Linked DNA regions of Homo sapiens: all the other regions are linked to region 1. Evidence: fine-mapped expression QTL. A gene starts in region 1. Each other region holds a variant in brackets. All regions are shown on one strand. Distances are from middle to middle. Region 1 holds the start of CAPN8 (calpain 8). Region 2 holds the start of CAPN2 (calpain 2). Region 3 overlaps LOC105373281 (a long non-coding RNA gene). Region 4 overlaps CAPN8 (calpain 8). Region 5 overlaps LOC105373281 (a long non-coding RNA gene). Region 6 overlaps CAPN8 (calpain 8).

What was found. PIP is the estimated chance that this variant, and not a neighbour inherited with it, causes the effect.
Region 2: its variant is fine-mapped to the expression of CAPN8 in whole blood (TOPMed, PIP above 0.99).
Region 3: its variant is fine-mapped to the expression of CAPN8 in whole blood (TOPMed, PIP above 0.99).
Region 4: its variant is fine-mapped to the expression of CAPN8 in whole blood (TOPMed, PIP 0.97).
Region 5: its variant is fine-mapped to the expression of CAPN8 in whole blood (TOPMed, PIP above 0.99).
Region 6: its variant is fine-mapped to the expression of CAPN8 in whole blood (TOPMed, PIP 0.97).

What each region holds. Positions count from the first base shown.
Region 1 is chr1:223,663,679-223,668,752 of GRCh38, reverse strand. CAPN8 (calpain 8) reads left to right here and starts at 3,052. Exons shown (of 21, transcript NM_001143962.2): 1 at 3,052-3,343. The coding sequence starts at 3,107.
Region 2 is chr1:223,710,119-223,715,192 of GRCh38, reverse strand. It overlaps CAPN2 (calpain 2), which reads right to left and starts at 2,654. Exons shown (of 21, transcript NM_001748.5): 1 at 2,316-2,654. The coding sequence starts at 2,552. RefSeq lists silencers at 2,188-2,307, 2,518-2,907 and enhancers at 2,017-2,968, 3,008-3,057. The variant C/T (reference allele first, on the strand shown) is at 2,283.
Region 3 is chr1:223,698,446-223,703,519 of GRCh38, reverse strand. The region is part of intron 1 of LOC105373281 (a long non-coding RNA gene); the gene reads left to right. It also overlaps a transcript of CAPN2 not described here. Among named protein-coding and RNA genes, the nearest start is that of CAPN2, 12 kb to the left of the region's middle. RefSeq lists an enhancer at 1,588-2,434. The variant GC/C (reference allele first, on the strand shown) is at 2,663.
Region 4 is chr1:223,551,534-223,556,607 of GRCh38, reverse strand. CAPN8 (calpain 8) reads left to right here. Exons shown (of 21, transcript NM_001143962.2): 14 at 2,708-2,776. Among named protein-coding and RNA genes, the nearest start is that of CAPN8, 110 kb to the left of the region's middle. The variant T/C (reference allele first, on the strand shown) is at 2,940.
Region 5 is chr1:223,688,376-223,693,449 of GRCh38, reverse strand. LOC105373281 (a long non-coding RNA gene) reads left to right here. Exons shown (of 3, transcript XR_949164.2): 2 at 2,622-2,678. It also overlaps the pseudogene RNU6-1248P. Among named protein-coding and RNA genes, the nearest start is that of CAPN2, 22 kb to the left of the region's middle. The variant G/A (reference allele first, on the strand shown) is at 2,711.
Region 6 is chr1:223,541,058-223,546,131 of GRCh38, reverse strand. It overlaps CAPN8 (calpain 8), which reads left to right. Exons shown (of 21, transcript NM_001143962.2): 17 at 833-901; 18 at 1,282-1,360; 19 at 1,949-2,065; 20 at 2,966-3,024; 21 at 4,273-4,516. The coding sequence ends at 4,296. Among named protein-coding and RNA genes, the nearest start is that of CAPN8, 120 kb to the left of the region's middle. The variant T/C (reference allele first, on the strand shown) is at 3,145.

The DNA of each region.
Region 1 (5,074 bases):
TTCTGTGATTGGATGGAGGAAGGGCTTGTTCATTTTAGTCAGTCTAAGGGGAATGTTTCTGGGAGGTGTAGGGGAGAAAGAGGCAAGAAAAACAATCCCATAGGATCCTTGCTAATGAACTAATGACCCTGCCGGAAGGTGTCAGGTCCATTATACCTGGTGCACGTTTATCCACAGCACATCTCATACCTGTAGGTGTATATTCATGCAACAAATATTTATTGAGTCCCTACTATGTTCCAGGAGCTTTCTAGGGTTCAGGAATACAACAATGAGTAAAACAAACAGGGGTAATTGTCCTCGTGGAGATCAGAGCCTTATGGGGTGGAGAGGCATTAATTAAATGATTACAGGAATCGGTGCGGGACAGGGTCTTGCAGGTTGCTATGAGAGCGTATAAGAGGGGAAAATGGCTTAGTATGAGGTGTGGAGTTGTCCAGAAAACCTTTTCTGGGGCACCCAGGTCTACTGGATGAACAGGGCTGGGGTGGGGAGAAGAACATTTCAGGTGGAGGGCACAGAAGGTGTCAAGCCCTGAAGCAGGACAGAACACAACATTCCAGGAATGGAAAGAAAGCCAGGAGGGGAGAATGGAGCAGGAGGAAAGGTAGGCAGGGCCAGCTGCTCAAGGTCTAATGGGCTGTGCAAAATCCCCCTTACTCTTCTCCCAGGAACAGTGGGCAGCCATTGGAGGTTTTAAGCTTGGCAGTGACACAGCCAAGATTTGCAATGACCATTCTGTTTTGACTGAATGGAGTTGTGGTTCTGGTTTTAGGGGTGGTTGGGGCCACCCAAGTGAGACCGTGTCAACTGTGTGGGCCGGTGAAAATGTAACTGTGAACACTAGATGAGCTTAATAGTGGGCAGATGTGGAATCAAAGGGAAAGTGATGTTGAGGGAAGGAAGACGGGGTCCCCAAGGGGGCATGGACCATAGTCTTTCTGAGGCTAGCTTTAGCCTCTGAAGGCCATTTTGGCCTTGAATTTCTTTTTCTTTCTTTCTTTCTTTTTTTTTTTTTCAGGCAGGGTTTCATCACTCTGTCACCCAGGCTGGAGTGGGTGACTCACTGCAGCCTTGACCTGACCTCCTGGGCTCAAGTGATCCTCCTACCTCAGCCTCTTGAGTAGCTGGGACTACAGGCATGCACCACCATGCCCAGCTAATTTTTCTTTTTTTTTTTTTAGAGACTGGGTCTTGTTATGTTGCCCAGGCTGGTCTTGAACTCCTGGGCTCATGCAATCCTCCTGCCTCAGCCTCCCAAAGTGCTGAGATTACAGATCTGAGCCACCATGCCTGGCCTGGCCTTGAGTTTCTGATGAAACCTGGGAAACCACATGTTTTTCTGAACACCTGGGAGCAACCCTTCTTTCTACTTGCTCAGACCTACCCACCTAGCTAAGTGCTTAACACGTGGACTGTCATTGGCTTAGAAGGTCAGAGTTGGAGGCCTCAGAGGTCGGCTGGTCCAGAGCTTCTCAGAGGGCATCCCTGGATCCTTGTATTAGCATCATCTCTGTGGTACTGGTTTAAAAACTGCAGATTCCTGGGTCTTACTTCAGACCTCCTGAATTAGAACTCTTTTTTGGGAGGGATGGGGGTGGAGGATTTGTGGTAGCACCTATTAGGGAATCAGCATTTTGAGCGAGTGCTCCAGGGGATTCTTCTGCACACTATATTTGTTTCCTGCGTCTTCTGTAACAAATGACCACAAATATGGTGGCTTAGAACAACATACATGTATTCTGTCACCGTTCTGGAGGCCAGAAGTCCCAAGGCTGTGAAATCGAGGTGTTGGAAGGCCCACATCCCTCCAGCGGCTCTAGGGGAGAATCCATTCTTGCCCCTTCCAGCTCCTGTGGCTGCTGGTGTTCCCTGGAGTGGGGCAGGATCTCGCTAACCTCTGCCTGCCTCATTTCATCACCTCTCCTTTTTGTCTATTGTCAAATCTTCTTCTGCCTTCCTCTTAGGACACTTGTGTATTTAGGGTCAGGATAATCTTCCCATCTCGAGATCCTTAACTTAGTCATAGCAGCAAAAACCCTTTTCCCAGATAAGGGACTATTTACAGGTTCTCAAGATGAGGACCTGGTATCCTTGGGGGACCATTTTCTAGTGTGCCACAAACACTGAAGTTCAAAAAGCATTGGTGTGGTTGACATCCTTCGGGTAGACCAGATGTAGGAAACTGGAGCCCAGAGAGAAGTGACTAATCCAAGGTCATACAGCTTGTAACTCACTTCTGAGATTGGAATCAAGGCTCCTGATTCCAAGGCCTTTCTGGGAATCCTGGCTTCAAGGAATAGTGATACCTGACATTCACTGAATGTTACTTCATACTGTTCTAAGCAGATGACATGTACTATCTCATCACTCTTCCGAACAACCCTTTGTGGTAGGCTCTCCTATGCTCTTCCAGTTTATAGATAAAAAAACTTAGGAGAAAAGAGGTTAAACAACTTGCCCAACATGACAGAGCAAATTACCGGGGGAGCTGGGATAGAAACCGAGGCAGTCAGAGGCCAAAGCGTTCACTCACAGGTGGAACCTCCTCCAGTCAGGCTTATTCCAAATCTGGCCTGTGAATCACTACTCTCTGGTATTTTTTGCCTTCCTAGGAAATATGCACCAAAACATTTCTGGCAGGAAAGGAGGCCCCTGTAACTACTTGCCTTCTTCCTGCTCAGAGCCATGCCTCCAATTCCTTGATGAATATTTGCTTCAAGCTGCTCAATAAGCCTTCTCATCTCAGTCAATGGGCTTGAAGCAAGGTAAGCAGGTCTTGCAAAGAGGTGTGTGGAGGGAATGCCGGGGTGGGGTCAAGATCCTAATGGATTTCTTAGGCTAATGGCCTGGGATGGGCCCTGGAAAGTTCCCAGACCCCAAATTATTTGCAAAAGGCAGAAGAAGAAGGTGGGGCAGATTGGCCTGGACCTTGGGTACATATTTGTCCCTGGCCATGACTCACTTCCTTCTGGAACAGGGCCTCAGGTGAAATGTTTGTCTGCTCCACCTCCTTTAGTGCCTTATAGCTCCCCTCCCAGTGGAGCAGGTGTCTGAGAGTACAGTGCAGCCCTGCCCTTCTGTCCACCCTACAGAGCCCACGGCCATGGCAGCCCAGGCAGCTGGTGTATCTAGGCAGCGGGCAGCCACTCAAGGTCTTGGCTCCAACCAAAACGCTTTGAAGTACTTGGGCCAGGATTTCAAGACCCTGAGGCAACAGTGCTTGGACTCAGGGGTCCTATTTAAGGACCCTGAGTTCCCAGCATGTCCATCAGCTTTGGGCTACAAGGATCTTGGACCAGGCTCTCCGCAAACTCAAGGCATCATCTGGAAGCGGCCCACGGTAAGGAAGCGGGCTTGCTGTTGAGTGACATACAAGGTGGAGGGGCCTTACATCTGATCAGGAGGAACTGAGGGAGAAGTTGAGGCTGTGGACCCTAAGTGTCTGGATCTCATATTTCAGATCCCTCCACCACCACCTTTTTTAATTTTATTTTTTTGAGATGGAGTCTTGCTCTGTCACCCAGGCTGGAGTGCAATGGCATGATCTCAGCTCACTGCAACCTCTACCTCCTGGGTTTGAGTGATTCTCCTGCCTCAGCCTCCCGAGTAGCTGGGATTACAGGCATGTGCCACCATGTCTGGCTAATTTTGTATTTTTAGTAGAGATGGGGTTTCTCCATGTTGGTCAGGCTGGTCTCAAACTCCCAACCTCAGGTGATCCATCTGCCTCAGCCTTCCAAAGTGCTGGGATAGCAGGCATGAGCCACTGCATCTGGCCCCCCCATCACCTTTTGAACTCTTATTTTTTTTGAGGCAGAGTCTCACTCTGTCACCCAGACTGGAGTGCAGTGGTGCGATCACAGTGCACTGCAACCTCAACCTTCCTGGGCTCAGGTGATTTTCCTACCTTAACCTCCCAAGTAGCTGGGATTATAGGCACGTGCCACCACACCCAGCTAATGTTTACATATTTTTGTAGAGACAGGGTTGTGCTGTGTTGCCCAGGGTGGTCTTGGACTCCTGGGCTTAAGCCATCTGCCCACCTCAGCCTCCCAAAGTGTTAGGATTACAGATGTGAGCCACTACACCCAGCCTGAACTCTTGTTCAGAGATGGTGAGGTATAGAGAGAAGAGCATGGATGAGCTTTGGAACTAGGTAAGATAGATTTGAATCCTAGCTCTGCCTGTGTTGTTTTGGGCCGGTAAACTCTGTGAACCTTAGTTTTCTCATCTGTAAAATGGCATTTACTGGCACCTTATTTTTCAGGGTTGGTATGAGAATTAGAGATAAATCTCAGAGCATAGTGCCCAGAACATAATAGATGCAGAATACGTAGTTGTTATTACTGCATATGGTCCCTGGGCCAGTGCACAATGGAACAACTCAGTGCTGGATGCAATCAGCTGGCAGGTAAATTGTGACAACATCATTGCTGAAAGGTGCACGGTTGCGCAAGGTCATGAATTGACATTATTCCATCAGGGCTGGTGAGTGGAGAGGTGGGAGCTGGGGCTCTGTGGATGCAGACGGAAGGCAGAGGCTCCTGGATGCGGTTACTGATACTACCCAAAGCTCAAGGGCAAGGGATGGAGAACAGTCCTCCCAAAACCTAGACCCATGACCTATCACTATGTGACCCTTGTCAAGTGATTCCTCAGGGATGAGAACCTCTCCCATACAGAGTGGTTGTGAGAATTGAGCTCATCCATACAAAGTGCTCTGTTCAACAGAGCTCATAACAACGTCTCAGGAGAGGGGCTATGAAATGACCTGGGCACCTTTTGTCTTCTAAACCATGATAGGGAAATTAAGTCAGGGTTCCTATTTTCTTGGCAGTGGTTGAAACAGGAAGACAAAGGGAGAGTACTTCTTCTAAAATGGTCAAAATCACTATTTAACTCCAGCTAGCTACCTCTACCCTTTTTACTTTGATCCTGCTGATTTTGCCTAACAGTTTTCATCTCTGAGAATAACTCCTTGGCCATGCTGCCCTCCCGCCCACCGTGGTTCATCTTCCCATTCCCCTCTGAAACCTATAGGGTTACCCTGGTATGTTGATAAAATCCAGAT
Region 2 (5,074 bases), 46 kb before region 1:
ACTTGCTAGTGTTCAAATCCAGCGGAAACAACTGTGCTCCCCTTGCCTGACCTCAGCAGCATTTGAGAAGGTAGGAAGGAGGCAGAGAGCGCAGCCATAAGGGGTAGGCTCAACATGCACAGACTACACACAGTCCTGGATCTATGCCCTATATCCACTTGACTCTGAGCAAGTATTTAACCTTCCCAAGCCTCAATTTCTTCAACTGGCAAATGGGGATCGTAAAAGTCACACTCTTCCTTAGTTGTGCAGTGCACAGCCCGCCTGCCCTAAGCAGTGGCGCTAGATCATCTCTAGACCTCTACATCCTCATCTGGAAGTCCCACAGGCATTTCCAACTGTTGGGGGACCTGTCTCTGTCCCCTCACTAGCCTCAGAAGTAAGTCTTCAGAAGCAGAAACCATATGCATTGTGCCCAGCATATAGTAGGTATTCGAGAAATGCTTACTGAATGAATGAAAGAATAAGTGAATGAGTATGTGAACTCACTATGTAAACTGTAAAGTGCCATGCAAATGTAAAGTGAACACATTCTCTTGGTTTGTGTTTCACTTTTTTTTTTTTTTTTTTTACTTTTTTATAGAGACAAGTCTTACTGTGTTGCCCAGGCTGGTCTTGAACTCCTGGCTCAAGCGATCCTCCCACCTTGGCCTCCCATAGTGCTGGGATTACAGGTGTGAGGCACTGAGTCAGGTCAGCGTATCACTTTCACAACCATAATTTCATTTGAGGCACATTACAATCCTGCATCCATATTCTACAAACAGTCACTTCTTTTGTGTTCACTGGTGTATCTCCTGAGCTCTCAGGACAGTGCCTGGCATGTAACAGGTGCTCAATCAGTGTTGTCAAATGAGTGAGTAAATGAATGAATGAATGAATGAATGAATACTGTGAAAGGCATGGTTATGTGTCAGGCACTGGGGATATACTGGTAAATAATATACACATGATTCCTGCAGTTCAGTAGGAAGAACAAATACATGTGATTATATTCTAAACTGTGACAATGCTATGAAGGAAATGAGTGGGGTGACAGAGAAAAACAAGGTGGGGAGGTGGCTGCTAAGAAGGGTCAGAAAAGACCTCTTTAGGAAGGGAACATGTGACTAAGTTGGGAAGAATGAGAGTGAGCCACACTCCAGGTAACAGCGTGCCTTGCTGGTGAGAAGGCCTCATGCAGGAAAGAACCGGCTCTTTGAGAGACTGAAAGGAGGCCATGACGGCAGGGCCTAGTGGGCCACAAAAGAGAGAAAATATTTAGGCAGCATGTTTTCTTTTAGATGAAGACATGGAGGCACAGAGAGGTTAAATGGCTCGTTCAAGGTCACCAGCAGGTTAGCAAGAAGAAGAACCCAAGTGCTCTGAGTCTGGGCTAGGGCGCTTCCTGCAGCCCTTGCTACCTATGGGCTGGATTTAGGGTAACAGAAGGTGACCTGGGAGGCTGCTGGGTGTGGAAGCAGAGCTGGAAGCCTTGTTCTCACAACAGGAATCTAGAAGTTGGACTTCAGGGCAGGCTTTCCTAGGCGTGGTAGGGGAAGCCTGGGGAAGTGTCCCAAAGGAGGAGGAGCCTCAGGGGTTCCCCAAGAAACAGAATGGACAAGTAGATTGGGGAGCACAAGTTGTCCCAGGGCCGGGAGGTCAGAGACCCTGGGGGACGGGATAAGGGGGTCTGGAGGGCTCCCGGAGGTTTCCCGGGTGATTCCCGCCAGGGAAACCATGAGACACCTCCGTGTCCTGGGTTAATTACCAGTGTCAATGTTATGAGGAGGTATCGCTGGCTCCCCTTTGGAAAAATAAATCTAACCCCAGGGCTGCAGGAGACTATCCTTAGTCACAAAATGACCAGGCTATGGCCTGTCCCCCTCCATGAACAGACAGAACCCCAGTTGGAGACGGACTTTGTCTGGTAGATGCTGCCTCTCACCGTCCCTTCCCTGCAGACCCGATTCCCCTTCCCTTCCAGCTCCCCGCTAGAGTCCAATCAAAGTTTCACCCCGGCCTCCTGCATCACCCTGAGTTTTTGTGAAGTCCTAAAGTGGCCTGCTAGTGGGATCTGAGGGCAGTGATTCGCCTCGACCCGCCCAGGAAAGCGTGGTGGGTGGAAGAGAGGGAAGGCCCCGGGAGTCCCCCCACGCTCGAACAGAGTCCCGGGCTCTGGCGGCGCGGAGGTGTCGCAGGACTGCGAGGTCCTGGCTTGCGGCTTCCCCACTGCAGCACCCGGGCTGCCCCCCGCCCCAGCGCGCCGCGGGCCGGCCTGCACCCCGCCCTGCCCGGCACCC[C/T]GCCCTGCCCGCGTCCTGCCGCGCGCTTCCTACCGTGGGGCGCTTCCACTCGATGCCCCGGGTTTTGCTGGAGTAGGGCCCCAACTCCTTGAAGCCCAGGGCCGAGGGGATGGCCGGGAAGGACGGGTCCTGGAAGAGCGTCCCGGCCTCCAGGCACTCGTTCCGCAGCGCCTCGTAGTCCTGGTTGAGGTACTTGATGGCCCTGTCGTGGGAGCCCAGCCCCTCGGCCGCCTCCCGGTCCTTCGCCAGCTTGGCCGCGATGCCCGCCATGCTGCGGTCCCGGCGGCCGTACTGCGCAGAGAAAGGTCGGGGCGACTCCGCGCTGCGCTCGGCTGGGGCGCGGCCAGGGCCCGGCGCGCTGCTGCGGCCACTGCGGGCGCCGCCGCTGCGAGCGATGATTCACCGGAGGGAAGCGGCCCGGCCCGCGGGGTGTGGCCTCAGCCGCTCCCGGCCTGCTGGGCTCCCGGCCCGGGACCAGGCCATCCTGCGGCCTGCCGAGCGCCGGGAACGCCGCGACCCGGGGCCGGTGCTGCCATCTGCGGACAGCTCCCGGGATGGCGCGGCCCGGCGCCGGGGAGGCTCGCGAATCGCGGTCCAGAGTTGGGGCTCCCACCGGAACCCGAGGCCACCTTTGCAGCCCATAGGGAAGAAGGCTAGGATAGTTGTGGCCGTCCGGAAAACACCCGGGGAGTTAGCAGAGGGTCAGGTAGTGAAGTCGAGGAAACTAAACCAGCTGCCCTGAACTTTGTGCCAAACAGCGTCTTAACGGCTCTGCATACATCATCTCATTTAATCCTCCCAGCGACTCTGAAGAAGGCGCTGATATTGTCCCCATTTTACAGATGAGAAAACTGAGCCTCGGAGACGCTAAATGACGTCCCCAATGTGGCACAACAGTCACAGGCAGAACAGGGACTCTAAGCCACCGGAGGCCTATTGCAATCACAATGCTGCAATTACTACTGCTCAGCTGTTTATTTGATTATAGATAGGGTTGTCAGATTTGGCCAATAAGGCTGGGTGCGGTAGTTCACACCTGTAATCCCAACACTTTGGGAGGCCGGAGGCAGGCGGATCACCTGGGGTCAGGAGTTCGAGACCAGCCTGGTCAACATGGTGAAATTCCGTCTCTACTAAAAATACGTCGTGGCAGGCACCTGTGATCTCAGTTACTCGGGAGGCTGAGACAGGAGAAACGCTTGAACCCAGGAGGGAGAAGTTGCAGTGAGACGAGATCGCGCCACTGCGCTCCAGCCTGGGTGACAAAGCGAAACTCCATATCAAAAATAAAATAAAATAAAATGATTTGGCCAATAAAACAACAACCCTCCCAAATGTTTAATTTGAATTTCAGATAAACAACAGATACTTTTAAAGTATATGTAGGGCCCAAATATTGCATGGGCATACATACTTATTCTAAAAGAAAATATGATTCATTGTTTACCTGAAACTCATATTTAACTGGCAGGATTAGTTGGGTTACTATAGGGAGAGAGCATTTAGAATACTGCCTGTGTTGGCTACTGTGACCACTCTGTTGTGGAGCTAGGGTGTGATTCTCATCTCACACACAGAGACATGGGTGCGTGCCAAGAAATGCAGATGGGCAGAAATTACCTCCTCTTCTTCTCTACAGTAGTAGGGAAGAATTTGGGTTTCACTGGAAAACTGTGCATGGTCTACAGCAGTGGTTCTCAACTGGGGGCAGTTTTGTCCCCTACCCACCCCAGGAGACATTTGGGAATGTCTGGAGATAGTTTTTATGGTCACAGCTAGGAGATGAGGTGCTACTGGCCTTTACTAAGTAGAAGCCAGGGATGCCGCTGAACATCTTCCAATGTCCAAGATAGCTCTTGTGAACCCAGAAAATCTGAAACAGGTCTCATTTAATTTAGAAAGTTTCTTTTGCCATGGTTGAAGATGCACACCTGTGACACAGGAAGTCCTGAGGACATGTGCCCGAGGTGGTTGGGGTGCAGCTTGGTTTTATACATGTTAGGGAGGCAAGAGCCATCAGTCAAGTACATTTAAGAAATACATTGGTTTGGTTCAGAAAGGCGGGACAACTCAAAGTGGCGGGGGGTGGTGGGTGGGTAGTGGGGGTGGCTTCCAGGATATAGGTAAATATTTAAACATTTTCTGGTTGACAATTGGTTGAGTTTGTCTAAAGGCCCAGGATCAATAGAAAGGAATGTTTGGGTTGCGATAAGAGGTTGTGGAGACAAAAGTTTTATCACATAGATGAAGCTTTTAGCTAGCAGGCTTCAGAGTGAACAGGCAGTAAAATGTTTCTTATCAGACCTAAACTCTGGTTGATGTTCACGCTGGAGAGGTATAATGAAGCATGTCCGACCTTGCCTTTCCTTCATGGCCTGAAAATTTCAGGTTAAAATTTTAAGAGCCTCGGCTAAGGAGGAACCATCCATTTAGATGGTTGGCGGGGGTAGGGGAGGGGGAGGCTTAGAATTTTATTTTTGGTTTACATTCTCCACCCAAAACATGATCTAGTCCAAGACATCAGTCATGTAGAGGCTGAGAAACCCTGGTTTAGAGCATCTCCTTCCAGAAGATCTGGGTCTAGCCTTTCATTGTTTTTGTTGTTGTTGTTGTTGTTTTTGTTTTTCTTGAGATGTAGCACCCTGTCACCCAGGCTGGAGTGCAGTGACAGGATCTTGACGATCTCAGCTAACTGCATCTTCTGCCTCCCGGGTTCCAGCGATTCTCCTGCCTCAGCCTCCAACGTAGCTGGGATTACAGGTGCACACCACCACATCTGGCTAATTTTCTAT
Region 3 (5,074 bases), 35 kb before region 1:
GCATTGGGCAGAAATGGCCAGCCCAGTACCTCTACTGTGTTGTCATTGGCTGGAGCAGCCTGGAGAGAACACATCCTCATCTCAGGTGCTTTGCAAATGGCCAGGCACGGCACAATGGGAGGCAGAGGTGAGAGGACTACTTGAGCCCAGGGGTTTGAGACCAGCCTGCACAACATAGAGAGACCCCCATCTAAAAAAAAAAAAAATCAAATGCTTTGCACATATTTACTCATTTAATCCTCAGAATAGCCCTATAAGATAGGTCTTGTCATTGTTTCCATGTTTACAGATGAGAAAACTGAGACACCAAGATACTCAATGAGTCACCCAGGGTTATACAGTCAGTGGGTAGTGGAGTTGGCATTTGAATGCAAAACTGCTTTTGGGAACCTCTGTCCTAGACAGGGGCAATGTGGTTTGCAGAGCAAATGGGGGAGAAAATGAACATTCTAAGCCTTACTTGTCAGCACCCTGCGAAGTGCAGTGGTCACAGTCCCCAATGACTTCCTTGATTCGAAATCCAGGGAAACCTTCTCAGTTCTTACTCTCTGTGTCCAGCAGCTGCCACTGCCACTGTTGCCATTCCCTTACTTTCTTCCCTCTGCTTCCATGGACCCCTCCTTCTCCTGGTTTTTCTTCCACCTTCCTGGCTGTTCTTTCTCAATCTCCTTCACCAGCTCCTTCCTCTCCTTCCTCTTCTTGTACCTTTGTGGATTTTTTTGCCTCAAAATCTACCTAGGTCAATAACTCCTATGCTTCTAATTTCCAGTCACAGGGGCCACTTGGAAATGTAGCAGTGCTTGGGGGAATATCACCAGGACACTTCCACTGGCCGGGCTGCTTCTCTCTCTGGGAGGTGGGTTATGTCCTATCCTCCCCGTTTTGCTCTCTTCTTGATGTATATACAGAGGAGACTTTTCTATGGACTTAGAGATAGTAATTTTTTAGCATATTAATTTCGGTTTTCAGGGACAGCTAGTGGAAGTTTGATGGTGTCCAAATAATTCTCCATATAATGTAGTTTATTTTCCTTCCTTTGTTTCTTCCCATCTTTTTCTTTCTTTTCCTTTCCTTTTCTTTTTTTTTGTTTTTTTAGACAGGGTCTCACTCTGTCAACCAGGCTGGAGTGCAGTGGTGCGATCTCAGCTTACCGCAACCTCTACCTTCCAGGCTCAAGCAATTCTCCTGCCTTAGCCTCCCTAGTAGCTGGGATTACAGGTGTGCACCATTACGGCCCAGCTAATTTTTGTATTTTTAGTAGAGACAGGGTTTTACCATGTTAGCCAGGCTGGTCTTGAACTCCTGACCTCAAATCATCCACCCACCTCGGCCTCCCAAAGTGCTGGGATTACAGGCGTGAGCCACGGCGCCCAGCCTCCTTCTTTCCTTCCTTCCTTCCTTCCTTCCTTCCTTCTTTCCTTCTTTCCTCCCTCCCTCCCTCCCTCCCTCCCTCCCTTCCTTCCTTCCTTCTTCCCTCCCTCCCTCCCTTCCTTCCCTCTCTTTTTTTTTTTTTTTTTTTGAGACGGAGTCTGTTGCCCAGAATGGAGTGCAGTGACACGATCTCAGCTCACTGCAACCTCCACCTCCTGGGTTCAAGTGATTCTCCTGTCTCTACCTCCTGAGTAGCTGGGATTACAGGTGTGCACCACCACACCTGGCTAATTTTTGTATTTTTAGTATTGACTCACCATGTTGGCCAGGCTGGTCTTGAACTCCTGACCTCAGGTGATCTGTCTGCCTCGGCCTCCCAAAGTGTTGGGATTACAGGCGTGAACCACTGCACCTGGCCTTCTTTCTTTCTTTAAAAATATTTTTTTCTTTGCTTTTTTTTTGTTTTCTCCACATAGTCGAACATCCTGGAAATTCGTTCCTTTGCGTTAGTCTCTGAGGATGGGCCAGTTAGCTACAGAGCCATCAGAGTCTGAGTGTCTGGCACCTGAGCTCCTCCTTGGCCCACAGAAAGGCTCTGCCCACCAGCTCCCCAGAGAGAATATGGAAATGCTGCCTGGGACCAAATAAGGGAATATAATGAAAGGGGCCTCAGGGCTGAGGCTGTGTTTGAGTCACATTTTAGCAAAGCGGCCACATAGCTTCTGACTCAGAGCACAAAGATTCTTCAATTCTTCATGGCAAGAATGAGACTCACAAGAGCATAAGCTCAGAGGTGGAAAGGAGGGCAGAGCTGTCTCCTCCTGTCCAGTCTAACCAAGGCAGCTAAGAAGCTGAGGCCAGAGAAGGGAGGGTCCCGCAGCCCTAGAGAGGGCCGGAGCCAGCTGGGGCTTCCAGACTCTCGGGAGAGGTCCCATCCTGCTGCCCGCTCTGCAGGCTCTGCTCAGTCTGCTTGGATGCTGCGTGTGTCGGGAGGCCCTGTCACCCTGCCCCTGACCCGGCTATGCTGGGGAGACCTCAGCTTTCTGACTCATACTCAGAAGGGAGTGTCTTAGAGGAATTTCTTTCCACTCAAGCAGTCTATGGACTGATCAAAAGTGCAAGTCATGTCAAGACATAAGTGCTCTCTAACATGTATTCTGCAATGTGGACTTGAATATAAACTGAAAAGCACAATAGTGAATAATTAGAGCTGTCATCTTGGCACGTTTTATGTAACTTCTGTGAGAGCGCGTATCACCTGGTGATACAAATATTTAGTGTCCATTTCCCC[GC/C]TAGCCCATCCATTTCTGAATGAGACACCATGTCTTTCTTGTTCACCTTTGTGATCCTGGCATAGTGCCTGGCACCTGGTGGGTGCTTGGTAAAGGTTTGTTGAACGAAGGGTCATAGGCACAAAGCGTTCCCAGGGAAAACTTGTTGGCATCTTTGATGTCAGAATCATTGATTTAGGGTGAGGGAAATGCTCCCTGGGCCCTGTGTCATGCTAAAGGAGTCCCTGAATTGAGAACTTTGAGGAGCCCAGATTTACTATCCACTAGGATTGCTTCAAATGTCTGAGTTTAGGGTGGGGTGGAGTGTACCCTCCTTTACAAGAGAACCAGAAGATTCCTCCCCCAGGGTTTAATGCTTGAATTCCTCTAGGAGAAAGATAAGAATGTTGCAGAACAGAGCTGTGCAAGCATTTCTTGTTGCTCCCTCCTCCCTCTCTCTCTTTCTCTCTCTCTCTGGGGCTGACTGGTCTGTCCCTAAGTTGTGGGTGCTGGTGCTGGTGTGGAGGGGGGATGAAGGGCCCAGGACATCTCTATGGGGTCTACTTGGGACCAGACTGGCCATCAACACACAGCCCAGCCTCTCCACTTGATTGCCACTCCTGGGGGCATTTCGGTGGACTACAAAGTGCTAGAAACCATGAAGTCCCTGGACGCCCCCTTGGCGCCCTGAGCATTCTATGTAGGGATGGGGGTGGTTGAGTGTGTTCTGGGAGTAGGGTCCTGGGGGAGGGTGGTGGTAGTAATGTGAGATTGGTGTCAAAGAAAAGAAAAAATTATTCGGTGGCACTTGTTGAGGTATGATTAGGAAGGCTTTATTCAGGACTGTTGCAATAGGCATAGGGGCCACTGCAATGGGGTTTTGCGGGGTGGATAGAGATTGGGCTCAACTCGGAATATGGCACGGCCAGGTGGGAATGCATAGCCAAGAAGCAGAGTGGGGGTCAGTGACAGATAATTACTAAGAGTAAACGTAAAGAATAAGGGGGATTCTGGCTAAACCCCCTAACCGAGTCTTGCTGAAGACAGGACAGGGTCATTGGACATCACCTAGATGGTGGAGGATGAGGAGCACAGTTAGATATTGGGGATGATCAGATAGCAAGGTGTTGAGGGGTTCTAGCTAAACTGACTTAGCAGGGTCCTCGTTAAAACTGAATTTTTCAAGGAAGTGCACAGATGGGCCTAGGAAAGGATCAGGAGGCTCACTAAAGTTTGGTCAAGCAAAGAATCTTTGTCAAGGGCCAGAAGAGGCCAGAGGTGAGGCCGAGAGGTGGGGAGGGACTAGCTGCTATAGGACCTTGTAAGGGCAATTGGAGGGGTTGGAAGTGAAGGGTGAAAGAGGTGAGTGTGGTGGTCAGGCTGGTGGGGAAGGAGTAGGGCTCTAGGCAGCTCTGGTGGAGAGGCTCCTGAGCCCCATCACAGGTGTTCCAGGGTCCATGAGAACTTCTTCTGATAGCAGGACTGTAGGCCCATGGTCCTGCTTGCCCACTCTTCAGAAGCAGGCCCTGATGGAGAAGAACTTGGCTTTTTATTTTTTATTTTTAAGAGACAAGACCTTGCTCTGTCACCCAGGCTAGAGTACAGTGGCATGATCATAGCTCACTGCAGCCTCCGTTTCCTGGGCTCAAGTGATCCTCCCACCTCAGCCTCCTCAGTAGTTAGGACTACAGGCATTTACCACCATGCCAAGCTAATTTGTGTGTGTATATGTGTGTGTGTGTGTAGAGATGGGGTCTCGCTATATTGCCCAGGCTAGTCTGGAACTCCTGGCCTCCATAATTATCCTGCCTCAGCCTCCCAAGTGTGAGCTTGGCTTTATGAAGATACAATAATTTGGGGGCTTCTCCTAGTCTATTCCCACTCACGATTTTTATTTTTATTTTCACTTTTTATGTTTTTTGAGAAGGAGTCTCGCTCTGTCACCCAGGCTGGAGTGCAGTGGCATGATCTCAGCTCACTGCAACCTCTGCCTCCTGGATTCAAGCAATTCTCCTGTCTCAGCCTCCCGAGTAGTTGGGACTACAGATGCCTGCCATCACGCCCGGCTAATTTTGTATTTTTAGTAGAGACGGGGTTTCACCATAATGGCGATGCTGGTCTCGAACTCTTGACCTTAGGTGATCCACCCGCCTTGGCTTCCCAAAGTGCTGGGATTACAGGCGTTAGCCACCGCGCCCAACCCCCACTCACAATTAAACACAGCCTGCACATGTATTTCTGCACCAACAGGTTGACAGGCTCTCATTGGAGAGAAAATAACCCGCTCCATCCTTTTGTGCAACTGGAATGATTTGTGTGTCTTGGGAAGTTTTAAAGGTCACCAAGATTTCCTGAACAACAAAAATAAGCCTGTAGTAATAAAGTTATTACACCACAATCATGCTCTTCACTGTGAGCTATAGCGGGTGGTC
Region 4 (5,074 bases), 110 kb after region 1:
GTCTCTTCTGGTCATGGGTCCACATTGGTTACCCCTGTGGTCAGCTCACAGGTTTCTTTATGACTGACAGCTCTTGGGCTTCTGTGCTCAGCATGGGGCCTAGAATCTTTGATGAACTGGGAGTCCTCAGGCCAATGGTCCAGCCTCCCCTTCTGAGGTACTAGGACATGGCTATGGAGCCATTCAAGGGTTCCCATATCCCCAAGATCCTGTAAACTTTCAACATCTTCTTGGTCTCAGGGAGACCCTGCTTTTTCTCTTTAGGGCACCACTGTGCTGTGACTGACACACACACACACACACACCCCAGAATACACAGATAATGTCCTCAGGGGACTCAGTACTTTACAGAAGACAGGAAGGACTATTGCCTTTAGGAACTTCTGTTTTATTCCCTGCAGAAATCTCCAAGTCACGGACAGTTGGACATTCAAAGAGCATAATCACCTGCTCTGAATGAGGGAAGGAAAAATTACAGGGTGAACAAACACACTCTTGGAATTTAGCCGTGTTCACTTTGAGCAGGGTTGTAAAGACATTCCCAACATGTGATATAATGAATAACAAGAAAATAATTCCTTGCGTTTGCCATGCTGCCATACCATTTGCAAAGCATTTTCATATAGATTGTATCAGGGAAATAGAAAATTCCACTATAGTACGTTCCTTGAGAACAAAAACTACGCCTTGTTCACCATTGCATTCACACGCAGGTTCTGAACAGTTCCCAACATGGGCCAGGTGTTCAGTAAATCTTTTTTTGAATGGACAAATTGTGAAGTACCACAGTTGCAACCACGTACACGTTTTCCTCATTCCCAATGTCCAAAAATTCCCTTGTGTCCAATGATAACTCCCAGTGACGGGATGCCTGCTATGTGCCTGTGTGTGTCCATATCCATATACTGTTTTGTTGTTAGTTTTTATATGCAATTTTATGTTTTTCCCCTATGCAATTTTATGTTTTTCCAGACATGGAGAATATTACTCCATGTCTGGAATTTATGGACATCCAAGATTTTGGCATACTGTATTACATGAATGATATAATGTTGTTTTCCCTATAAAACCACTTTAAAATCATATATGTGTGATGAGATATGATGTGTTTATCATTTTTTCTTCTAAAAATCTAGATGTATTTTTAGATTAGCATATCTTCTATGTAAACAGCATGGTAGGCGTTAATATCCTCATTCTGCAGGTGAGGAAACAGCCCCAGAGAGGCTGAGAGTAGTCGGATGCAGGGAGCATCTTCTCTGACGATCATTCCAGAGGGTGGTGGAGAAGTGCATGGGCTGGAGTTTAATCCTGGCTTCACTGTTTACTAGCTGTGTGATCTTGGCCTGTTACATAACATTTAAAATGAAGTAACATTTAAAATTCCAGTTTGTCCATTGGTGAAGTGAGGACAGTAATGAGAGGAACCTCACAGGACAGTGGTGAATATTAAATGAAATAATCCACGCAAAGTACCTGACAGGTAGTAAGTACTCAACAAAGACAAGTATTATTACTACAGTGGTTATCTTTATGAGTACAGCATCATCAAGCTATATTGGGCCTTTTGTACTCATCTTAGTGATAGTTTTGAAAGAAATTAACCCGGCTTTCTAGAAATTTCGTGTCATCTGGGAAGCTGTCACTTTTCCATTCTGTCTTGTGGTGACAACTGGGCATTGTCCTATTTTGGGCAGAGCCCATTGTCACATCAGAAAGTCTCTGGACAGAAGCATTCATATAATGGTTTGTAATTTCCAAAGGACTTTGACCCACATTAGCTCTCATTTGATTCCTAAAATGGCCCCATGAAAATGGTCTGGTTAAATCAATAACAGAGTGGAGGCCATGGATGTTCAGAGCCCTGAGATAGTGTCCAGTAAGGGTACAATCTGCTATTTGAACTCCAGTCTCCTGGCTTCTAGTTCTACTCTTTCTACTAGGCCATGTTCTCAACACTTTTGAAATCATGTTGCTCTTCGTGAATCTGATGAAAGCTAAGAAAATGTTTTTTTTTTCTGATATAAGGTCTCGCTTTATCACCCAGGCTGGAATACAGTGGCACAGTCTTGGCTCACTGTGGCCTCAGCCTCTGAAGTAGATGGGACTACAGGCGTGCACCACTACACCCAGCTAATTTTTGTATTTTTTGTAGAAATGGGGTTTCACCGTGTTGCCCAGGCTACTATCGAACTCCTGGGCTTACGTGACCTGCCCGCCTCAGCCTCCCAGAGTATTAGGATTTCAGGTGTGAGCCACTGCACCCAGCCAAAAATGCATTTAGATATGACCCCATGTTTTCACGCAATTTCTGGAGTTCAGACTCCCTGGAAAATTATCAGTGATTCCCTTAGGAGTCCACAGATTCACACCAAGATTTTCTGGTGTCAGTGTCATTTTCTGAAAGTTGTTCAGGTTGTAATCAGAAATTCAGGGTTGGTGGGGCTCACTTCCCCAAATCACTTAGAGAGAAAACTGCTAGGCCCCAGCGCTGCCTCTCTGCTCATCCCTGCTGGACTGTAAGCTCCCTGGGGCCAGGACCTTTGCTGTCTCTTGGTTTGCCACCATGTGCCCCCACTTAGCCCAAAGCCTGGCACATAGTAGGTGCATCATAGATACTAATGGATGAAGGAATGAATTTTAAATCTTCGTCTTTCATTCTCCTTGACGATTCCCATTTTAACTTTGCAAATGTCCTTCTTTTTAGCCACATCCCAGTGAGGTGGATCAGGAAGATGACCAGTTCAGGAGGCTGTTTGAGAAGTTGGCAGGGAAGGTGAGTGGAGGGCGAACATGGCTTCCCAGGTGGGCAGGAGAATATTCAGGAATGCTCAGGTCACTTCATTCTTTACTCCCTGAGGTCTCTAGGCATAAAAAGGGTGAGACTCAGGTCTCAGGGGCCCCCAGCTTCTGTGCCCATCACCATCCTGTCTTAAGAT[T/C]GAGTACCTTTCCTTCATCACTTGGGAATTGGTCCTGAGGCTACTTATCTTGCTGCGTTGACTGACTCTTGAGAAAATAGAAAAGCCAGATCTCCAGGTCCTGCCAAAAGCCTTTCTGTTTGCAGATTGGCCCTGTCAGATTGGGGTCTCTGAATAAAAAGCTGGGATGGCAAAACCTCTCCAAATAGATATCCTTCAGAGTGAGGATTGCCCAGCCGCAGTGGAAGGCAGCTCAGCTAACCTGGCTTGGGATTAGTGTGCAGGACTAGCCCTGTTCCCTGTCACCGTCCTGCAGCCCTGCCCGCCCTCTGGGAGACCAGCAGCCTGAGGAATCCAAGCTTTGCCCGACATGAATGCAACTTGGGCACTTGGAGCAGAGAAAGAAGCGACCCCTGATCCTTCTCCCCTGCCCTGGCTTCCGTTCACTTTGGTAGCAGCCCGGTGGGGGCCACAAGTCAAAGCATAACCAGGACTTGAAATGTCAAAACCGGCCCCATAAATACAGCGAATGTGTTACTCTTTGGAGGATAATAAAGTGTGTGAAAAGGGCCCGGAAGAGGAAAAAACAATGGTCTCCCCCCACCACCCCGGGAAACTCAGGGTGACTTTCTAGACTTAAGGATAAAATAGAAGAAAAGATATCAGAATCCCTTGCAGGAAATAAAACCTGGGAACAGTTCCTTTGCATAGCCATTGAATAAAACCCTTGCAAAGATGAGCCAATTTATGTTTTAGATGGATTTACAGGCCAGTATTTTTGCTAACAAAACCTGTTTCCTTAGCTGCCAAGGGCCATATTTTATTAAGAACACCAAGAATGATGAAAGGAAAAGCTCATATTTGCATAGTTCTTCATGCACTTTATCTTACCTTTCTCTCTGGCTGCATGGGGCAGTATTGGTCACTCTCCTTGCTCGGCTTGTAAAGTGGCCTGCACAGAGAGGTTAAGGAGCTGGCTGAGGGTACAAGGCCTCATGAACGACGGGGTCAAGGTCCAAATGTAGACTCTTGACATCCCATTTCTTTCCTGGCAGGCTAATGGGGGTAGTCTTCTAGCCCCAGAGGCTTTTTAAAGGGGCCTCAAGTCTTTTTTTTTTTTTTTTTTTTTTGAGATGGACTGTTGCTCTGTGACCCAGGCTGGAGTGCAGTGGTGCACGGCTCACTGCAACCTCTGCTTCCCGGGTTCAAGCGATTCTCGTGCCTCAGCCTCCCGAGTAGCTGGGACTGCAGATGCCAGCCACAACGCCTGGATAATTTTTGCATTTTTAGTAGAGACAGGGTTTCGCCATATTGGCCAGGCTGGTCTCGAACTCCTGACCTTAGGTGATCCACCCACCTCGGCCTCCCAAAGTGCTGGGATTACAGGTGTGAGCCACCGTGCCTGGCCCAGGTCCTCAGGTCTTATTATTGGGACTGACCACTCTGTGCTGGGGTGAGGCCAGTTGTCCTCAGAGGAGACACTGCTTTGTGCAGCTCTTGCCTCTCTCATTTCCAGTAGAATTGCCAGGGCCTGGCTAGCGGAGGATGGGAAGATGGAAAGTGACTCGGCTAAAGTCACATGATGAATAAGGGGCTGAGTTGAGACTGGGACCCAGACATCAGCCCAGCACGCCTTCTCTGCATTTCCTTGGTCATCCTGCCTGAGATCTGCTCTCCATCTGAGAGTTAAGGGATGACTCTTCCCTCTGGCTCAGTGTTTATCCCAGATGCACACAGAATATGCTATTCTCTCAATCTCTGCCCCCAGTTTGAGATGGGCTCCTATGTGAAATACCAACTCCTGTAGGTGTGGTGGGGAAAGCCGGCACTTTGGGGTGAACCAACCTTAGGTTTCCAAGTCTAGCTCTGCCTCTTGGTAGCTACAAACCACAAGCAATTACGTCACATGAAAATGACAAATGATGTTGCATGTATACAGTGTTCAGCAGTTTACAAAATCACGACTTCCTTAACTTGAAAATGGCTGTGGAATTGTGCTGAGGATTTAAGGATCTTCCACACTGGCTCTGGCACATCTGGTTCAATCCTATCACTGCTGTTCCTGTTACTTTATCCCTGTTCAAGCGAGCCCTGTGAAAGGCAGCAGGACCCTGGCATGGCAGCCTTCTGCCACGGTGTGTACCACACTCATGGCA
Region 5 (5,074 bases), 25 kb before region 1:
AAGTAGCTGGGATTTCAGGTGCCTGCCACCATGCCCGGGTAATTCTTGTATTTTTAGTAGAGATGGGGTTTCATCATGTTGGCCAGGTCAGGTCTCGAACTCCTGACCTCAGGTGATCTGCTCACCTAGGCCTCCCAAAGTGCTGAGATTACAGGTGTGAGCCACCATGCCAGGATGAATTTTCTTATTCTTTAGGAGAATGTACCTTGATTTGATTTGTTATTCACTATTGAATGGGGCCAAGACCATAACGTTACATACTAGCATGTAGATTTTTGTCTAGTATAGCTACTAATAATTTCATTCAGGGAAAAAAAATAAAACAACAAAAGCTAAAATAAAAAATAAAAACCAAACAAATAAACAAAAACCCTAAATCCCAAAGGTTATAGTCTTCTTGCCCTGTATAACATTAACCAGTTTTGTATACCACCCCAAAATTCTATTTTAACATCTTTTATTCAGTGCCTATAATACTTAATCTCTCAAGTTCTCTTGAAACCAACTTTACCATCCCACTCATTCTCTCATTAATTAGGTAAACGAGTTTTTAAAAAACCAGGTACATAAATCTAAACATAATGCTCTCTTTATAAATGTAAATAAATAAAATACAATTTTAACTCATAAAAAATTATACCCACGCTGGTGCAGAGCCTCTCCTTTAATCCCAGCACTTTGGGAGGCCAAGGTGGGTGGACCACCTGAGGTCAGGAGTTTGAGACCAGCCTGACCAGCATGGTGAAACCTTGTCTCTACTAAAAATACAAAAATTAGCCAGGCGTGGTGGCAGGTGCCTATAATCCCATCTACTTGGGAGGCTGAGGCAGGAGAATTGCTTGAACCCCGGAGGTGGAGGTTGCAGTGAGCCGAGATCGTGCCATTGCACTCTCTAGCCTGGGCAGCAAGAGCGAAACTGTCTCAAAAAAAAAAAAAAAAAAATTATACCCAGCTGGGTGTGGTGGCTCACACTTGTAATCCTAGCACTTTGGGAGGTCCAGGTGGGTGAATCATTTGAGGCCAGGAGTTCGAGACCAGCCTGGCCAACATGGTGAAACCCCATCTCTATTAAAAATACAAAAAATTAGTTGGGCATGGTGGCACATGCCTGTAGTCCCAGCTACTCAGGAGGCTGAGGCAGGAGAATTGCATGAACCCGGGAGGTGGAGGTTGCAGTGACCTGAGGTTGCACCACTGCACTCCAGCCTGGGTGACAGAGACTATCTAAAAAAAAAAAAAAATTATACCCTGCCACTTGAATTTAAATTGGCCTCCAATTCCAAATGACCACAATGTGATTTATTTTAACCTTCCCTCTTTCCATATTTGTAATTCTCTTCTCCAACAGTGAGAGATATTGCTTTCATCCTTCTGAATATATTTATTTATTTATTTAATTCAAGAATACACAGAAAGTAGTTTTAGAATCACAAACCCATACTACCATGAAAATTACAACTACCAACTAGGTTAGGGTTCAATGTTTGTTTATAGTTCGTTTTGTCCTTACTGAGAAGATATAGTCAAAATGCTATAGACAAAGTCTCTTGAATTACTTAGTTTCCCCCCTATTCAATAGATTCTTTTTGAATCTGGCTGGGCACGTGGTGGCTCACGCCTATAATCCTAGTACTTTGGGAGCCAAGGAAGGATTGCCTGAGGCCAGGAGTTTAAGACCAACCTGACCAACATAGCTAGATCCTATCTCTCCAAAAAAAAAAAAAAAAAAAAAAAAAAAAAAAAGAGAGAGCGATTCTTTCTGAATCTAAAATCTGTTTAGAACAGGAGTGGCTTGGTTTACTCCACTACCCTTTGTTAGAGTGTTTCTAACTGTGGCGGTTCCTTTCACATGAAAATAGGGCCCTCACTTTTTGTATAGGTGGCCATAGACATATAATAGAAATAACAAACAGACAAGTAGCAGAATATACAAAACAGTTGCGTTTTGATCACTTCCCAGGAGTTGTGCATTCAATTTACCAGTGACTTCGTGTTTCTACTAGCCTTTTGCTGATATCCTAACTACACATTAGTTCTTTCCACCCCACGTGGAAAATGACAGTATTGGCGTACTTTAATTAACTCCAGATAATTTTCTCTATTTAGAACTCTGAGAAGTTGATCTCTCTCCAGAGGACCCCAGATAATAAAAAGCATTCTAATTCTCTAGAGTTGGGCCATTCAAAGCCAGTTTTAAACAAGAGGTTGAATGATGTCCCCACATGTTCAATTTTATATATGGTGTTAGCATACTTCTGGTGATAAGGGAGTTTTGTTAATGACTCATATAAATGACAGCTTAATTTTTAGTTTTTAATAGTTGTGCTGTGTGCTTTGCTCTCATTTTTAATAGTTCGCTGTGTGATTTGTGTCCTGTTAGGAACAGGATTCTAACAAAGCCTAACTCTTGGTGAAATCTGGAGTTTATCATCAGGTCCCTGGCCCTGTTGTATCACCCTTTCCCACCTTGATGGTAGTCTCCCTGTTTTCCTTGTATGCAGTGCCCTGAGGAGATCTTTTTCACACATTTAAAAGTCTTCTTTCATCAAAGTATCTGAAAGTCAGTCACATGAAGTTGCAAATAACAGATAATAGCTTAAAGTGTCACTCTTCTCTCCTAGACTCCTACAGGACAACCAGGGACAATCATCTTCACAGGAACCTATCCTCCCTGCTGGGTATGTAATTTGCATAATTTATAGCGCTGGGT[G/A]CAAAATGAAAATGTGCTTATCTTGTTAAAAATGCAGGAAAAAAACTGTAATTAAAATACTAAAATATAAAGCCTGTGCGGTGGCTCACGCCTGTAATCCCAGCACTTTGGGAGGCTAAGGTGGGCGGATCACTTGAGGTCAGGAGTTCAAGACCAGCCTGGCCAACATGGTGAAACCCTGTCTCTACTAAAAAGACAAAAATTAGCCGGGCACGGTGGTGGGGCGCCTGTATTCTCAGCTACTTGGGAGGCAAGAATCGCTTGAACCTGGGAGGTGGGGATTGAAGTGAGCCAAGATCGTGCCACTGCACTCCATCCTGGGCAACAGAGTGAGACTCTGTCTCAAAACAAACAAACGAACAAACCCCTAAAATATAAAGCTTTTTTTTAAAAAAACAATTTTTATAAAATGTAATAGGGATAATAGTGATATATGAGTAATGACTAAACCTACAAATTGCAAAAATGTACCATTTTTTGTTTCACCAATTTATATAATACAATGGATAATAATACTTTATTAATGTGAAATCTTGATTGGTCATAAGATTTTTCTGACTCACTTCTCTGCAAATCATTTCTAAAGCCATCAAAATTTATATATATATATATTTTTTTTTTAAAAAGGGGCTATGCTAATCTTCTCTGTATCATTCCAATTTTAGTATATGTGCTGCTGAAGTGAGCACCAAAATTTATATTTTCAAGATGATGACAGCAGAGTAAGAAATAAAAATAAAATCCTAAGCCTCCCAACCGACTGAATGGAGTGCCTCTCAGCCAAGTGGACCCCAGAGGAACCTTAAAAACTGAGTTCCCAGCCATAAGGGGATGGGAGGTCAGATACACCTCAATATGCCCTATCCTTATTCATCTTTAACCAGAAATTTTTCCTAAGGAGTACACGGAAATCAGCCCTGGGGAACAAGATACAGATGACTCTACTTCATTGCCTTTAGCCAGTCATCTGAGGCCATGACTGGACTCCCCCTTCCTTTTTGTGGTTTTTTTTTTTTTTTTTTTTTTTTTGAGACGGAGTCTCGCTCTGTTGTCCAGGCTGGAGTGCAGTGGCGTGATCTTGGCTCACTGCAAGCTCCATCTCCTGGGTTCACGCCATTCTCCTACCTCAGCCTCCTGAGTAGCTGGGACTACAGGCGCCCGCCACCAAGCCCGGCTAATTTTTTTTGTATTTTTAGTAGAGACGGGGTTTCACCGTGTTAGCCAGGATGGTTTTGAAGATCTCCTGACCTCGTGATTCACCTGCCTCAGCCTCCCAAAGTGCTGGGATTACAGGTGTGAGCCACCGTGCCTGGCCTTTTTGTGGTTTTAACACAGCAACTAACCAGCATTCCTTCCTGGTAAGAGATCACTGACCACAGAGTGGTTCTCAGCAGTTTGCAGAAGATGCACGTTGATGGTTTTTGTGTTCTCTGTTTCACCTTTTGATGTCAGAGGGCCAAAAACTCCACCCTTGGATCATGCAAGCATCATCATTTTTTGAACATGTGACGCATAAAGAGGCATGAAGCCCAATTGCACATGCACATGTTTCTCTTTTCATAAATATTCATGACTCCTCCTATTGTGTACTAAATATGTATACTTAGCCAAGCCATTCATTATACATTCCTGTTTTATCCATCCCTGCCTCGAAGTACCTGCTTCTGACTTCTGTCACAGGCTACACTTCCCAGCCTGTAGGAATGGCCACCTTGCAGATTGCAACACTTCATGAGAAATAAACCTCTTATTTCAAAATTTATGAACCTCACCACTCGTTAGTTGACAAGAGTATTAACCTAAGCATGGGGCCCCTCTTGGAGCAGGGCCCTTATGACTGCATAGGTTGCTGCCCATGAAGCTAGCTAGCCCTGCTGACCTTGTTGCTGGTTTTCCAGGAGTAGATGCCGAGACTGTGCTTGGTGTACAGAGTATTTATTAGGAATCAACATCCGTGGATGAGAGGAGGAGGAAGCAGTCTTGGGCAGAGGGAAAAGTCAAAATGTGATGCAATTGTGACAAAGCTTTGGCCATTCCTATGGGATGTTCTGGACCATACACGGCCCATCAGAGATGCTAGATTAAGCCAAAATGTCTGTGTCTTTATACCTTACTTCTATCAGTCATTGGATGTGAACTGCCCCAACTTTGGGAGGTGGGATTAGCAGAAAGTTTCCAGGTCTCAAATCCTTTAGAGTTTGTTTCAGTTGCAGAGAGCTAACTCAACCAAGGGCATGACCCTCCCAGGCTGAGCAACATCCTGCTTTCTCTTCTGAAGAAAACAGTAGCAAACCAAATCCAGCTCTCTATATATGATAATATATCACAGCCAATAGCTGAGGTCAAGAATAGTAGATTGACCTC
Region 6 (5,074 bases), 120 kb after region 1:
TGACTAGCACAGCGTTAAAAAAAAATAGTCGTGGCACTTTGGGAGGCTGAGGCAGGCAGATCATTTGAGGTCAGGAGTTCAAGACCAGACTGGCCAACATGGTGAAACCATCTCTACTAAAAAAAAAAAAAAAAAAAAAAAATTAGTGGAGTATGGTGGCGGGTGCCTGTAATCCCTGCTACTTGGGAGACTGACATGGAGAATTGCTTGAACCCTGGAGGCAGTGGTTGTAGTGAGCTGAGATCACACCACTGTACTCCAGCCTGGGCGACAGAGAGACTCCGTCTCAAAAAAAAAAAAAAAAAAAAAAGTTGTGGAGTGAATGTAAGTTGGACACAGAAAATCCCTCATAATATCCTCCTGTTTGGTTGTATAGTGGCCTATGAGCAGATTCTGTGGCTTAGACTCCCAGTCCCATGGTTCCTGGCTCCTGATGTCTTTTCCCATAACATTTTGACATTCCAACAAACTCTAATTAGCTGAATGATCAATCACAGAAATGTAAATGTAGAAGCGAATTTACAGATCATACAGCTCCACCCTGTAAATAAACCAGGATGATTAGGGTATTCACGATATTGCAGATTGGCCAGCTCATGACTTGCCCTTTGTTCCTAGCTCTGTGCCTGGCCTCAGAGGAGAGCCTTGGTGCACGTTTGACTTTTTAATCTTTATTTGAACCTGTTACACACCGTCACCCCCACTGCTCTGCTTGCCACAGACATGGAAGGTTCACTAAGGCCTTAAGGCACTCATGCAAGCTCACAAGAGAAAGAAATCTATAAGGCATGTAGAATTTGGACTCAATCATGTTGGTCTTTAATGTGCCTAGAGCAATGGAACGGGCACTTTGGGGGCGGTGGAATTCAAGACGCTCTGGCTGAAGATTCAGAAGTATCTGGTAACTCTCTTTTCCTTCTGGGCATCCTCTCCTCTGTTCTAATCCTCCCTTACACTCATTCCTGGTCCATTGTATTCTGACCACATCCTTAATCATGGTCAAAACTATTGAGTCCTGGGCACATTGGTCATGAAGGAACAAGAAGGCAATGAGAGACTCTCATGCCAACCACTGCCCTGAAAGCCCTGCTGTTCAGACAGCAAAGGGGCCAGCACTGGCCAAGCTCTTATGCTTGCTCTGAAACCTTCTTGGGAGGAGTCAATAGGGTCTCCTTTTGAAAGTGTCCCTGGCCTTTTGAGAAAGCAGTGTGGTGGAGGGAGATGGTTCTGGCAGGGGCCGTGAATGGTTGTTTTCTACTTGGGATTTCTTTCCTGCTTTAGGAGATCTATTGGGAAACTGATTATAACCACTCGGGCACCATCGATGCCCACGAGATGAGGACAGCCCTCAGGAAGGCAGGTGAGGACACATCCTGTAGACAGGGTCTTGGGATCCAGGTGTGCACATTGTAAATATTTATTCTCATGATGATGATTGCTAATGATCATCATTTGTAGCTTTCTTATATGGGATATCAAGGCAACAACAGAGCTTTGTTGAGTACCTTCCCTGTCCAGGAAGGGGAGAATATTGCTCGATTCCATATAGCATAATATTTTAGAATTTTTCCAAGATCTCTGCCTGTTACTGGGAAGGTGACAGCAATTACAGAGGAAGGGGCTATGAAGGAGACAGACAGGAACTGGCCAGACAGGCAGCCCCCTCACCTTCTCTGCTTTTGCTTGCTGATGTGACCCATGGCTGAGTTGGTGCTGGTACTAGCGCTGGACCTGGAATTAGGCTGATCTTGGTGAGGAGTAGCTACAAGGAGAGGGATGGATGGCAGGACACCTTCTGGGATCCCCTGGAGAAGGCAGAGTCAGGCCTGGTTTGCAGATTGATACAGAACCACAGAGGGGCCCCTGGGATGTCAGCTCCTTGAGTGTTTATGGGAGACAGTGCTGAGTCCTCCACTCTACCTGTGACCCAGGCTCCCTCTGCCCTCAGGTTTCACCCTCAACAGCCAGGTGCAGCAGACCATTGCCCTGCGGTATGCGTGCAGCAAGCTTGGCATCAACTTTGACAGCTTCGTGGCTTGTATGATCCGCCTGGAGACCCTCTTCAGTGAGTCACTCTGTCCTCCAGCCCCATCCTATTAATCCCAAGGTGCAAGGTGGGGCAGGGGCAGGGCCAAGGGGCAGAACCAGACATTGCCTTTAGGAGGCCAGGGACCCAGAAAATGATAGACAGGGCTTCTGGAATGCTGGCACCTTGGGGGCGAGGGGCAGCTGGACCTGAAGGGGCTGAGGAAGTCCAGGCTGGCCAGATCCAGGACGGAGGATGCCTTTTTTGGAGACTTAACAAAGCTGCCATCCAGACTATTGCGCATCTACAGTGTGCAGTCACTAGGCCAAGATGAATGAGTCACAGTAACTGTTCTTAGATGGTGTTTAGTGTCTATTTATATTTGTTTTTCAATAGGGATCATATTGAGAACATGTGCCACCTTCCAATGAAGGGATGGGGGGTGCCCTCTGAAGGCAATAGGCGTTTTTCTGCCATCTTGGGCCTTGAGATTAGATATCTTATTAGGAAGGGATTTTTCCTTCCACTGAGGTTTGGTAGGTGTTACGTTCTAGTGGGTCAAGGTCAGTTAGCCAGAGACAAAGCTAAGGGACTGGATTACCCACAAGCAAGACAACCACAATCTGTTTGACCTTGATAAAGTAATTGCACGTTTCTGATATAAAGCTTCTGAGGATGGAGATACCAAAGGGACCATCTCTGCTGGCAACGGGGTTTGTCTGTTTCGGCAGGGGGGCATCTGATCCCCCAAAAGCTCATTGTGTGCCCTGGATCTAGCTTTTTGAGGCCCCTGGGCCTAGGTGGGGGCTGGAGGGGAGGGGGTGGTAGGGGAAAGGAGAGTTCCGCAGGTGGGGATGGGGTAGACAGAGGCAGCTCTCTGATTGTTCCAAAGTCCAGGAACAGCCTTATCTAATTTCATTTCCTTCTCTGGTGTTTTAGAACTATTCAGCCTTCTGGACGAAGACAAGGATGGCATGGTTCAGCTCTCTCTGGCCGAGGTGAATGTCCTGAGGTTTGATGAATTGCTGGCTGATGGTACTCTGAAATTCTTGGACCATGTAGCTGCCAAGTGATGCTTATTCCTGTTGGCTGTCTTAGTTCCATGTGAATACCATGCA[T/C]GTTCTGTGGCAGGCACCCAGCAGGGAGGAAGGCAACTGTTATACAGTTTTCCAAACATTTTTGTTTATTATTATTATGATCGTAAAGATAAAGCTACAGCTACATTTCAGATAATTTCGGAGATGCAAGCCCTTGTTAATTTGGATGGAGTTGTGGGTAGTGGGCACAATATAAAGTGTCTGGCTTCTAGGACCAGCTGTCTTATATGGACCTATGGAAGGATGTAGGAAACAAAAATGAAATTGCAGTGGGTAGAATGAAGATGCAAAATGAACAAGTGTTTTTACTGTGTACAAGTCACATAATGTTTTTGCAGAAAAAATCAGAGTACTTCCCCCGTGGACACTGCACCCCTGTACGACAGAGGCCTTTACTGGCCAGAGGGGACAGCAGGAAGTGTGGAGATGTCTCCAAGGGTCCAGGCAGGGGGAGGCATTGGCCTTTGACTTGATTCTGAGGCGGTGGAACTAGAGGGCCAGGTTATTACTGGCTGTGCCCCATTGTCTGTGCTTACCCACTTTCTTTTCTTCTCTAAAGTGGGAATGCTATTGACCTCTTTCCTGTAGCCCAGGAAAGGCCTTCCTAGAAATAGACCTGTGGATTCCCACAGATACCTGGACAATAGTGTGGAACCTAAAATGGAGTGTGGTTGTGTGGGTGCATAAAATATACATATATACACACACAAATATGCACATATAGGAATATATATATATACACATATAGAAACAAATACATATATAGGAAAAGATATGTACACATATATAGGAATCTATAGGGATATATATATACACACACATATATAGTGTATATATATGTGTGTATATAATAGTATACACTATTGTGTATATATGTATGTGTGTGTGTGTGTATGAATATACATGCACATACCTATTTTTGGAGCTCCCTTTGGGTCTAGAGCTTTTTCTGAGTCACATTTCTGTAGTACCCTGGTTCAGGAGTTAGTGATATAGTGAAAGCCTTCCTTGCTTCCCATGTTTGAGCAAGGCACTTACTGGAGAATGGAGATAAAAAGATCGCACCCATGTGAGGCAGGAGAGCATCAATGGTGAAAGCACACCAGCCCCTGAGAAGCCAAGACTCAATCTTGTCCCTTTCCTTTGCAGTGGCTGTGCTGCGTGTTGGTCTGACCCGGGGTTTCGGACATCAGTGACACTCCCTGCCCCACTGCTTGCTTCTTGTCACCCCTTCTCTACAATTTTGTGAACATTTATGCTCCAGTGGCATTCACTGGTTGTTCATACCTTTCTTGCCCTGGGTCTATTTCAGCAGCACTGAGCTATGAGCTATGTAAGCCGACCCGGTGGGCCCAGTGGAGGGAAAGCAATCAATTAAAGTTGTGAGCCAGAATGGTTTCCACCTTTCTCTCGTGATATGCTATCTGGGCTGTATCCTGGGCTTTTTATGCTTTGGGAAAGAAGATGTTCTCGGGAAATGGCACAACTCAAAACTGCTGAAAGATACAAAGTGTAGGTTAATTTCTCAGAGGAGAAGTCTTCTGTGGACCGAGATGCATCCGGAGGCCACCTTCAGGAAAGGAGCCCAGGAAGGGGGCAGGGATGGGATGCTGGGAGAACAGGGCTTTCTTCCTTATTTGCAGACATGGGAGACTGCTGGACTGTACTGAGGAGAATTCTTACCTGGCAAATAGCTAGAGGGGAAAGGCAGTTCAGGTTAGTTTTGCTCACAGCTGAATGCTGGCATCTCTGTTGTTAGTAAGAAAATAGATGGCACAGCCATGGTGTCCCTAAGGGAGGAATGGGGACAGGGCTGGTTGTTCAAAGCAAACTCTATGTCTGCATAGCTGGTTGTTCTATGCAGACATGAAATATCAAGGAGAACACACACACACACACACACACACACACATGCTTTGGCCCTGGATCAGTCTGATTGATTATGGATTAA